Linked DNA regions of Homo sapiens. The protein of the gene in region 1 binds, or shares a complex with, the protein of each later gene. Each region holds a gene or a part of one and is shown in the gene's direction. Other genes may lie near its edges.

Region 1 (4,854 bases):
AATTATATGTTTGAGTGAGGCAATTATCTTTTATGTCTTCTCTTCAGAAGCTCACCAAACTTGTTGTTAAACCTGTTTTGTAATGTATTTATTACTGAGGATAATTTTGGAGCCTTACTTGTTAATCATCCCTTAGATCAAAGATATCTTTTCCTGAATATAGTTACTTTTCCTACTTATTTAAAGCATCTTAGATTTTCAGTGTGTTCCCTTAGTGTTTGTTTTTGTGTGTTTGTTTGTTTGTTTGCTTGTTTGCTTTTTGCAGTATACTTCAACAGTTATTTGTAGTTGAGTCTGGTACCTTGTTAGTATTAAGAAAATTTTTTTACCCTTTAAAGAGGTTAACCTATATGTTATGTACATATGGGACTACAAAGAACTATCTTATTCATTGTTAACATGTGCTGTTTAATTTTTGACTTAGCATTTGGCTCAAATGATTTTTAAAATAAGAACAGTGACCTGCCAGAAGTGTTTTTGTTTATTGTTTTAATTGGTATGGAGGAAAGAACAGCTCTTGAGAGTCGAGATGCGGTTTCCAGTTTTTTCTGCCATTTTAACTGTGTGATTAAGGCACAGATTTCTTCTCTGGTTCTCAGGTTTATCGTCTTTGAAATGGGGGTGGATGGAGTTGAGAACTGTGGTAATTATTACTGAGGTCCCTCAGTGAGTCTGTTATTGAAGGACCACTCTAAGAGAATTTATTACTTTAATGTTCCAATTAGCTTTCTGCTCAAACTCATTTCTTATTGTTTACCCAATCAATTTTAATTATTTTACTTTTGTAGAGTTTTAATAATTTACTTTTACACAAGTAAAAACAACCTTTACACTAATAAAAGGTATTTATAATGCAAAGTTATGCATTCAAAATTTATTAGATTTCATTCATTCAGCAGATATTTTAGCACTATTTCAGAGAAGTAATACAAAGATGAAAAAGCACCTAAAGTCTCTTATCATCAAGATCCTTATGCCCTAGTATATCTTTAATTATAATCTGATAAGCACTAGAATGGAGAGTTATACAAGATATAATGAACTTAGCCTGGAAGTTGGATTTGGAGAGCTGAAGGTAAATATTATTTAAAAATCCTGCTGAATGTTAAAGAAAAGTTGTTTATCATATGTTAGCAACAAAAAATTTGCACACTGTTTTTACAAAACTGTTCTTTATTATAAGGACTGCATACTTTGTCCTCTCCCATTCAACATTTTAAAGAAATTAGAACATTTTACTAACAATAGCCAATCTTGTGCTGTTTTTAAAATGATCATTTTTGGATATTAACATAAAACACATTTTATAAATTATTTGTACTTTAAATTCTATGTCTGAAAATTCCAAGTCAGCTCAGCTGAACACATATTTATAGAGCTTCTGCTTTCTGTCATTATGCTGTATATTGGAGGTAAAGATAAATTCCTGCCTTCAAAGATCTTGCTATCTGATGGAGGAAACCTGCACATAAGCCTGTAAATTAATTTTAGGAGTTTGTTTATATTTACAAATGCATGAGTGTACATACATCTATGTAGATATATATATATCTACATAGATGTAGTTCATACAAGTTCTGATGTTCAGATATATTTTCTTTTTTCTTCTTTTTTTTCTTTTTTCTTAAGACAGTCTCGCTCTGTCGCCCAGGCTGGAGTGCAATGGTGTGATCTCGGCTCACTGCAACCTCTGCCTCCCAGCTTCAAGCAATTCTCCTGCCTCAGCCTCCCAAGCATGCTGGGATTACAGGCGTGTGGCCACCGCACCCAGCTAATTTCTATATTTTTAGTAGAGACAGAGTTTTGCCATGTTGTCCAGGCTGATCTCAAACTCCTGACCCCAAGTGATCACCTGCCTGAGACAGAGTCTCTCTCTGTCACCGACGCCAGAGTGCAGTGGCGTGATCTTGACTCACAACAACTTCCGCCTCCTGGATTCAAGTGATTCTCATGCCTGAGCCTCCCAAGTAGCAGGGATTACAGGGATACACCACCACACCTCGTTTTAGTAGAGACGGGGTTTCACCATTTTGGCCAGGCTGGTTTCGAACTCCCGACCTCAGGTGATCTGTCCATCTCGGCCTCCCAAAGTGCTGGGATTACAGGTGTGAGCCACCGCGCCTGGCCCCAGATGTATTTCTTAAAACTACGGGAGTAGATAGATAGCAGAAATAAATAGAACCCAACCTTCTCTGATATTCCTCATGAAACAGTGATTAAAGGATTAATCAGAACTTCACATTCATTGTCCACCCTCACCAATGAGTTTTTGATCTTTGCAGTAGCAGTTACTTTTCTCTTTTTCATAGTGACTTTATTCTATGGAACTGTATTGTCTTAATGCACTAATTCTGCCAAGCTACCTTCTTGTACAAATGAATGATAGAATGTATTGATTCATGGCAATGGCTAGGTGTCAATAATAGCTTTTTGGATACTTGAATGTACTCCTGCCCGTTTTGCTCAGAGATTGAAAGATCAAGAGCTGTGTGTTGATAGGGGGACCTTCAGTGGCTGAATAGGGAAGAAATTGAATGTCATTCTGTCTAGCATAGCTTTTTTGTTTTATTTTCTTGATGATAAAATGAGAATTTAATAATAGCTATTACATTACTATCAGTAATGGGCAATTAAAAGTTTTAAAGTGTCTTTATTAAGATAACTTTATAATGTATTTTAAAACCTTCATTCCTCAAGACCAGCAATTCTTATTGGAATCCATGGATGGACCCTGGGGAGCTAACATCCATCCCTTGAAATTGCCTGCGAAATTATGCGTGCGTTTGTGCATGTGTGTTTTTTTCTCCCCAGGGGCGGGGGGGTCAGGGAGGAAAGATGCATAGCTTTAATCAGAGTCTTTGGTTATGTGAACTCTTCTTACTTAATAAGTTTAACCACTGAGTTAAACAAGTTAAATGACCTCCAGTATGTTTTTCCTAGGGCTGGGGAGCAGAATACCACCGCCAGGATGTTACTAGCACCCCCTGCTGGATTGAGATACATCTGCACGGCCCCCTCCAGTGGCTGGATAAAGTTCTTACTCAAATGGGTTCACCTCATAATCCTATTTCATCTGTATCTTAAATGGCCCCAGGCATCTGCCTCTGGAAAACTATTGAGCCTTGCATGTACTTGAAGGATGGATGAGTCAGACACGATTGAGAACTGACAAAGGAGCCTTGATAATACTTGACCTCTGTGACCAACTGTTGGATTCAGAAATTTAAACAAAAAAAAAAAAAAACACACACACCTTGGTAACATACTGTTGATATCAAGAACCTGTTTAGTTTACATTGTAACATTCTATTGTAAAATCAACTAAAATTCAGACTTTTAGCAGGACTTTGTGTACAGTTAAAGGAGAGATGGCCAAGCCAGGGACAAATTGTCTATTAGAAAACGGTCCTAAGAGATTCTTTGGTGTTTGGCACTTTAAGGTCATCGTTGGGCAGAAGTTTAGCATTAATAGTTGTTCTGAAACGTGTTTTATCAGGTTTAGAGCCCATGTTGAGTCTTCTTTTCATGGGTTTTCATAATATTTTAAAACTATTTGTTTAGCGATGGTTTTGTTCGTTTAAGTAAAGGTTAATCTTGATGATATACATAATAATCTTTCTAAAATTGTATGCTGACCATACTTGCTGTCAGAATAATGCTAGGCATATGCTTTTTGCTAAATATGTATGTACAGAGTATTTGGAAGTTAAGAATTGATTAGACTAGTGAATTTAGGAGTATTTGAGGTGGGTGGGGGGAAGAGGGAAATGACAACTGCAAATGTAGACTATACTGTAAAAATTCAGTTTGTTGCTTTAAAGAAACAAACTGATACCTGAATTTTGCTGTGTTTCCATTTTTTAGAGATTTTTATCATTTTTTTCTCTCTCGGCATTCTTTTTTCTCATACTCTTCAAAAAGCAGTTCTGCAGCTGGTTAATTCATGTAACTGTGAGAGCAAATGAATAATTCCTGCTATTCTGAAATTGCCTACATGTTTCAATACCAGTTATATGGAGTGCTTGAATTTAATAAGCAGTTTTTACGGAGTTTACAGTACAGAAATAGGCTTTAATTTTCAAGTGAATTTTTTGCCAAACTTAGTAACTCTGTTAAATATTTGGAGGATTTAAAGAACATCCCAGTTTGAATTCATTTCAAACTTTTTAAATTTTTTTGTACTATGTTTGGTTTTATTTTCCTTCTGTTAATCTTTTGTATTCACTTATGCTCTCGTACATTGAGTACTTTTATTCCAAAACTAGTGGGTTTTCTCTACTGGAAATTTTCAATAAACCTGTCATTATTGCTTACTTTGATTAAAAATTTGTCATTTCCTTTATTCACCTACTAGATTTTAGGATCAGTAAAGTTTGCTACTCTTCTGAGAATTTTTTTCTCAAATATCCTCCACCAAACATGAATGAAATTACTAATACAGAGACTCGAACACAGCAGCATGAAGAGACCGGAGCCAATTTAAATCAAAACAAAGGACATGTACACCTTGAAAAATTGAGAAAAACTACCAAAATCTAAGTGTATAAACTTTTTAATTTTAGAAATTACAGCAGCAGCACTTTTTGGTTAGTACCATGCAGTCAACCAAAGCAGCAATTTCTAAACTTCAGATGAAGATACAAGCGTGACTGTGGGAGGAGGTAATAAAGGGGGAGGGATGAGAACTCACACTGCAGCAGGAGAAGATGACTACCTTTGCAGTCTACTTAAGGCTGGGATGATCCCAACACTACCCATTCCCCCACAAAAAAGTTTACCAATGAGGGACACAGATTGAAGGACACTTAGATTATTTCTTGGCCCAATAGATGCTATTCTTTCTCCTTTACATTT
Region 2 (7,319 bases), on another chromosome or scaffold:
TTTTTTGAGATGGAGTTTTGCTCTTGTTGCCCAGGCTGGAGTGCAATGGCTCCATCTTGGCTCACTGCAACCTCTGCCTCCCAGGTACAAGTGATTCTCCTGTCTCAGCCTCCCAAGTAGCTTGGATTACAGGCATGTGCCACCACGCCCGTCTAATTTTTTTGTATTTAGTAGAGATAGGGTTTTACCACATTAGTCAGGCTGGTCGCAAACTCCTGACTTCAGGTGATCCACCCCCCTTGGCAACCCAAAGTGGTGGGACCACAGGTGTGCACCACCACACTTGGCCTACTTAAACTATTAATTCATAATGCATTATAGATAGTGTCATTTGGTGATGAGACAAAGTTTAAAGTTCTACAAAGAATGCCTCCTTGTATAGTGTAGGCATATATTTGGGAAGGTAGTGTAACCTTATTTGGACAAAATGTTAAAAGCTTTGATTGAAGCTTCTCATGAATGTGGGGCTAGGCCCTATAAGCTTAGGCGTTGGAATAAAACACAGATAACTGGATTAAAACAGTATAACAGATTCGGTTCATTAAAATCCATGAGAGAACGGGATTGAAGATTTAGATAATTGTGAGAAATTTATTTATTATTATTATTGTTTTTTGAGATGGAGTTTCGCTCTTTCGCCCAGGCTGGAGTGCAATGGCACAATCTCGGCTCACTGTGACCTCCGCCTCCTGGATACAAGTGATTCTCCTGCCTCAGCCTACCAAATAGCTGGGATTACAGGCATGTGCCACCATGCCCGGCTAATTTTTGTATTTTTAGTAGAGACAGGGTTTTGCCACGTTGGTCTTGAACTCCTGACCTCAGATGATCCACCCACCTCATCCTCCCAAAGTGCTGGGATTATAGGCATAAGCCATCATGCCTGGCATGGGAAGTTTAAACAATGAATTACGATTTCCAAACTGAATGGCAAGGATGTTATCTTAGTCTGTTTGTGCTGCTATAAAAAATACCACATACTGGATAATTTATAAATACTAGAATTTTATTTCTCACAGTTCCGGAGGTTGGGAAGTCCAAGATCAAGGCAGCAACAGGTTTGCTGTCTCATGACAGCTGCTTTCTACTTCCAAGATGGTGCCTTGTTGCTGCATCCTCTTAAAGGGATGAAGGCTGTGTCCTCACACAGCAGACAGATGAAAGGGCAAAACAGCTGAATGCTGTGTGAAGCCTCTTGTATAAAGTTCTTAATCCCATTTAGGAGGGAGGAACCTTCGTGACCTAATCACCTCCTTAAAGGCCCCACCTCTTTAATACTGATGCACTGGAGACGTTTCAACATGAATTTTGGAGAGACAGAAACACCCAAACCATAACAGAAATGAAAAGGGAAGGGAGTGATAGGTTGCAGAAAAGGGAGAGGTTAAGGATAAATGAGATGTGAGTAATGAAATAAGAGAACCAGATGATTATTAAGAATATGGTATACCATAGTCTGACTTCACTACTGGAGTATTTCTGGATGATGCAGAGTACAGACGAAGGGGCAGGTGGCTAAAGTGAAGTAGAGATGAGGGTCCATTTTAGTTGACAGGTCAACTAATTGGGATACGCATGTTTTGAGATAGTGATCTACCTGGACATTGAAAATGATCCAGGATAAGGGTGCATCTTTATACGAAGAAGGTGACTCCCTATTTTAAGATGCTGCCAACAGATAATTGGTCCACAAAATGGGCAGAAGAGGAAGGGAGTAGACAAAGGACTGAATATGTTATCTTTATCCCCTACTACACCGTGGTTGAAATTGTATAAACGAGGAATAGTAAATTACAAAATCTTGGTTGATGATACAGAAGTGCTTACAGAACATAGTCACTCCAAAGACCCTTTCACTCCACTTATCAAAGTAATTTTGTCCTCAGTTTAATGGCAGGTGAAACAATATTGAACAAAGCAGCCTCTGCTGTATCTGAAGCCCTTTAGTTAGTGTTCATAGCAGTAAATGCTCTAGTAAAGGGACAGCTTCTATTCCAATCCCAGGTTTTCAATCACTTTGGTTCTTTTTTTGAGACAGAGTCTCGCTGTGTTGCCCAGGCTGGAGTGCAGTGGTGTGATCTCAGCTCACTGCAACCTCCACCTCCTGGGTTCAAGTGATTCTCATGCCTCAGCCACCTGAGTAGCTGGGACTACAGGAACATGCCACCACACCTGGCTAATTTTTATGTATTTTTTTTTTTGTAGAGACAGGGTATCACCATTTTGGCCAGACTGGTCTCGAACTTCTGACCTCAGGTGATTCCCCTGCCTTGGCCTCCCAAAGTGCTGGGACTACAGGCATGAACCACCGCACCCGGCCCACTTTGGTTCCTAAAGTTTTCTTTCAGGTAAAGTTTTTAATGCATAGTTTCTGCCCAAAGGTTTTGTTTGTGTGGACTGATTATTGGATAAGAGAGGAAGGGACTACCAACAGGGTCCCTGAGGCTGTGCTTAGAAAGAGAGGGCTGCTGCAAGGAGAGGCTATGTTACTACCTGTGAAATAATCTGTGAACATGGGACAACAATGACAACTGACATTGATGTGGAACTCACTGCACGTCCCAAACTGGGCTAAGTACTTTATATCCATTGACTCATTTAATGCCCCAACAACTATGAGGTAGGTGTTATTACCCCTGATGCTAATATTAAAGAACAGGAAATAAATAACTTGTCCAAAACCTCACAGCTAGTAAATGGCAGAACTGGGACCTGAACTCAAAACTCTGTAACTCCAGAACCTGCAAGTCTGTCGTTAAATGCACTTGACATTTAGGAGTGGGAACAAATCCAAGAACTAGTCATGGGTGTCATTTACTCTGATCCTTTTTTTCAGACAGGAAACTGGGGGTTCAGAGTAGTTGATTGGAATCTTCTGTTAGAATTTTGAGTGTCTGAGGCCTGCTCCTTTGGCCGAGCCCTACCACACCAAGTGATACAGATCCTTCAGAATTCTCCTGGGCATGTTCTGGCTGAAGGAAGAAATTACCTTTTTGCTCACGGACTTTTTCCTTGCTTAATCCTACTTATACCTTTGTTTCACTAGCATTGTAGACAAAATCATTAAAACAAGAAAGCCAGATTTCCTTAGAATGGGCTTGTGCATTTAAAATTAGACTGATGTTGCACAATCCTATGAATATATTTAAAAAAACAGTGAATTGCTTAAATATACTAATATGTACAACTATTGCAAAAACTGTATGGTATATAAATTATATCTCAACAAGGATGCTTTAAAAAAAAAAAACCCAGAGTGTATGACTTAAAAAACATTTCTATTGTTTTTGAGTGGCTTCCAGAAGGGCTCCTTGTACATCAGGTGCCTGGGATGACCTCCTTGCCCATTCATTTCTTATTCAGTCCACATTAACGGAGTCCACCGTTGGGCCAGGCACAGGGATAGCAGGGGTAGGGACCCAGCTCCTTGAGGATGAAAGACAGGTACAGAGGCATGAATGCTTGTACCTGAAGACGCACTAATTTTTTGGGTTGCGGCTTCCAGTGACTATTGCAAATTCGAGTACTAAAAAAGTTGATGTGATTTCACTATTTGGAAAATGTAGTGTTTTTGTTTCTTTTAATAAGTTACACTGAGTTACAGACCTGGTCTCAAAGCTTCAATTACAGTAACCGTTTACCCCTCTCAAGTGAGTTTTTGCAGACTAACAGATAAGTGAAACAATTACAAAATAAAGTTAATGCTGAAAACAATGGATCTTTATTAACATCAATGCCGGCTCACGGTATCTATTTTAACTCCAATCTATCCTCGCGGCTTTAAGCTCGCACAGGCGCTCCGCTCGGTCAAGCCGGGGTAACGCGAGGAGGAGGAGGTGGGTTCGCACATCCTCTCTCCACTTCTTTCGGCCTTGGCCCTTTCGCAGGTCCAGGCGAACTGGAAGCGCCTTTCCCGAGCACGGGCGGGGAAAAGGGGCCGAGCGGAGCGGAAGAACTTCCTGCAGCCAAGGGCGCCCGCGTTCTCCGCAGACACCACAGTTCGGACCCGGATTGGACCCATCGTTTGCGGTTCGCGGGGCAGAATACGGGGCACGCTTCGGGCCCCTGCCCGGCTGAGCGCGGGCGAAGGGCGGACCGGGCCAGGGCGAGCGGGTCACGTGCGGCCGGGAGAGGCGCCGCGGGCCGGGAGTGTGCAGGAATGTAGCAACTTGCAGCGAAAAGTTTCCCTGCGCTGCCGGCCGGGCCGCGGTGCGGGCGGGCGCGCAGAGGAAGGAAGAGCCGAGAGGAGGCGGGGCCGCGGCGGCGCGGGCGGGCGCTTCTCCTAACTTTAGTTTTGGCGTTTGAGGCGAGTTTCTGTCTCAGTCGGGCGCAGCCGCCGCCAGGGAAAAGAAAGGGAGGAAGGAAGGAACAAGAAAAGGAAATAAAGAGAAAGGGGAGGCGGGGAAAGGCAACGAGCTGTCCGGCCTCCGTCAAGGGAGTTGGAGGGAAAAAGTTCTCAGGCGCCGCAGGTCCGAGTGCCTCGCAGCCCCTCCCGAGGCGCAGCCGCCAGACCAGTGGAGCCGGGGCGCAGGGCGGGGGCGGAGGCGCCGGGGCGGGGGATGCGGGGCCGCGGCGCAGCCCCCCGGCCCTGAGAGCGAGGACAGCGCCGCCCGGCCCGCAGCCGTCGCCGCTTCTCCACCTCGGCCCGTGGAGCCGGGGCGTCCGGGCGTAGCCCTCGCTCGCCTGGGTCAGGGGGTGCGCGTCGGGGGAGGCAGAAGCCATGGATCCCGGGCAGCAGCCGCCGCCTCAACCGGCCCCCCAGGGCCAAGGGCAGCCGCCTTCGCAGCCCCCGCAGGGGCAGGGCCCGCCGTCCGGACCCGGGCAACCGGCACCCGCGGCGACCCAGGCGGCGCCGCAGGCACCCCCCGCCGGGCATCAGATCGTGCACGTCCGCGGGGACTCGGAGACCGACCTGGAGGCGCTCTTCAACGCCGTCATGAACCCCAAGACGGCCAACGTGCCCCAGACCGTGCCCATGAGGCTCCGGAAGCTGCCCGACTCCTTCTTCAAGCCGCCGGAGCCCAAATCCCACTCCCGACAGGTAACCTCGTTGCCCCTCTCCCCGTTTCCCCGTCGGGCGGGCCTCAGACCGGGGGGGCGCTCGGGAGCCGCGGCCGCCAGCTCTGGTCAGGGGAGGGGGGTTGCGGGAACTCTAGCTGGGGTGGGGGTCCCGAGGCGAAGTGGAACTGGAGTCGTCCACTCCGCCGCGGTGACCAGCTCCCCACTCCTCCCAGAGTCCGGGGCTGAGATTTGTTTTTCCCTTCTGAGTTTCTCTCTGCGGTTGCAGCCCCGGGGGGCGTGCTTTCCCTCCTTCTTCCTTTCTTTCTTCCCGGGGTTCCCGAGAGGTTGGCGGGAGTGGAGGAGGGGTGGGGAGGAAGGAAGGGGGTGGGGAAAAGTCGGGCCTGGGCCGCGGTGGGCTTGCACAATGCGCGCGCCTCCGCGCGCTCCGCACCTTCGCTCCCGCCGGGCCGGGCTGGGAAAGGGGGAGGGGGGCCTCTGGCATTTGTGTGTGGGTGTGTTGCCAGCGGCGGCCGAGTTTGTGAAGTTGAGCCCTGGGCCCCTTTCCTTTGCGGCCTCTCGGTCCACTTCAGTCTCCTGGGGGAGTCAAATAATTGTTCTCTTGTTTTCCAGTGTTGATTAGAGGTGGGGGTAGAACCGGTCCATTTAGTTTTTTGCTCTTTCTTTCCTTCCCCCCTCCCGTTTCCCCTCCCCCTCCCGTAAGCATTTATTTTCCTCGCGGCTCAGGCGATTTCGGAATACAGGTTTCGGGCTTCCCCTGCCCAGACTTTCCTGGAAGTTGTTTATGGAGTTCTTTCACCCCTGCTCTTCCCTTGTGTGTTGGAACTTGGGCCGGCTTGCTCTTATCAAACTTAGTAGGTCGCGTGTTGGTTTCCCAGTTGTAGACTATTATTTACAGTCGGCTGAAACGCTTTTGAATTAGCCACATCTGTACGTTGCGCAGGAACTGAGTTGCGCTTTACAGTACCGAGGTTTTAACACAAGCCTTTGATAATACACTGCAGGTTGACTCATAGGCCAAGTCCTGCCTAGTTCAACTGTGATTAAAAGTTAATGTTTGGGAAGCGATGACTAATTCTAGGATCGCCATTGCTTTTTAATTCTTATTGCGGATATGAACATGGCTGCTATTCCACATACACAATGTTCGATTATTGTGCCAACTTGATTCAGCATAGAAGTGAAACTGTTTATAATGAGTGTTAACATTCCAATAGGTCCCAGTGGATTTGTTTTGTGTAGGGTTCTCTCTTTTTCTTTCTTTTTTATTTCTTCTTCTTTTTTTTTTTTTTTTTTTTTGAGAACTTGCTTCAGGCTAAACTTCAGCATAGGAACTTTGCCCAAAAGTTAATAGGTTTTCCAAATACTGCAATGTAGTTAGCCCACTCGGGATGTAACTTGAGTGGAAAGAAGAGTTACCGCCCCCACTCCCATTCCCTCTCCTATTTGCAGGCCTGTTGTATAGTCTCCTGTCGGAGACCAAAGGGTTTTGGAACTCAGAAAAAATCACTTAACCTGATGACAAAAACCCGGGTTAAGGAGGAGGAAAGAAGGAAAAACAATTTAGCTGCTTGCCTAAACACTTCAATTTGTCTTAGGTATGCTTTTTTCTCTTACCCCTCGAAGTGGGTTTATGGACTCATTGTGGGTAAATGTATGTTGGCATGCACCCTACAGACTGCACGGTATGTTTTCAAAGTATAATACACATAGATTGGATCCCCCATTTTGTGGCATCAGCCACAAAGAATTACAACTGGGAAGTGTACTTTTTCTTCTAGTAAATAATTTTTACAAGAATTTATATCCAGCAGTTCTAAAATTCATAAACTATTATAGTTTTGTTTGTTTTAAATAAGTTTTTAACTAAGTGTTTTGCATCTGTAAATTCGACTTTTATTTCTCCTAATGATTTCCTAAATCATACTTATTCTGATGGGAAACTCAAAAAGGTGTATCACTTTAAGGCATTAATGACTCTACTGAGTCCTTCCAGTTTCCTTACCTTTGTGAATCTAGGAAATTCTAACTTTTTGATAATCAAACTCTAATGCTAATTAAAAATATTTTAAAAACTATGCAAGATTATGAATAGTACAAATCTAGGTTGTAAATACTATTGTTCACAACACAAACTGGTGACTGTAAGTTCTTTCATATACATCCATTTTTCTATCATGAAAACTATTTTATAAAGGAGAAAACAGGCATATGGAAGTTAAGATACTTGTTCAGTGTCACACTAGCCAACTTAGACTGGAACTCAGATCTTTGGGGTCTGAATGCAGAATTTTTTCTGC

The links. Proteins that work in one complex are often made in the same cells at the same time.
Region 2: the proteins of SMAD1 (region 1) and YAP1 are in contact, whole or in part, in an NMR structure (PDB 2LAW), measured with the Homo sapiens proteins. Residues at the interface, in NP_001003688.1 of Homo sapiens: Thr222, Pro223, Pro224, Pro225, Ala226, Tyr227, Leu228, Pro229, Pro230, Glu231, Asp232, Pro233; in NP_001123617.1 of Homo sapiens: Glu237, Ala239, Met240, Thr241, Tyr247, Ile249, Asn250, His251, Lys254, Thr255, Thr256, Trp258.

Annotation. Positions count from the first base shown.
Region 1 is NC_000004.12:145,554,851-145,559,704, forward strand, and holds the end of SMAD1 (mothers against decapentaplegic homolog 1), read left to right. Parts: intron 1-2,940; coding exon 2,941-3,084; 3' UTR 3,085-4,326; downstream 4,327-4,854. UniProt on the Homo sapiens protein: Transcriptional modulator that plays a role in various cellular processes, including embryonic development, cell differentiation, and tissue homeostasis.
Region 2 is NC_000011.10:102,106,129-102,113,447, forward strand, and holds the start of YAP1 (transcriptional coactivator YAP1), read left to right. Parts: upstream 1-4,318; 5' UTR 4,319-4,720; coding exon 4,721-5,041; intron 5,042-5,420; exon of another isoform or gene 5,421-5,643; intron 5,644-6,319; exon of another isoform or gene 6,320-6,617; intron 6,618-7,319. UniProt on the Homo sapiens protein: Transcriptional regulator with dual roles as a coactivator and corepressor. Critical downstream regulatory target in the Hippo signaling pathway, crucial for organ size control and tumor suppression by restricting proliferation and promoting apoptosis.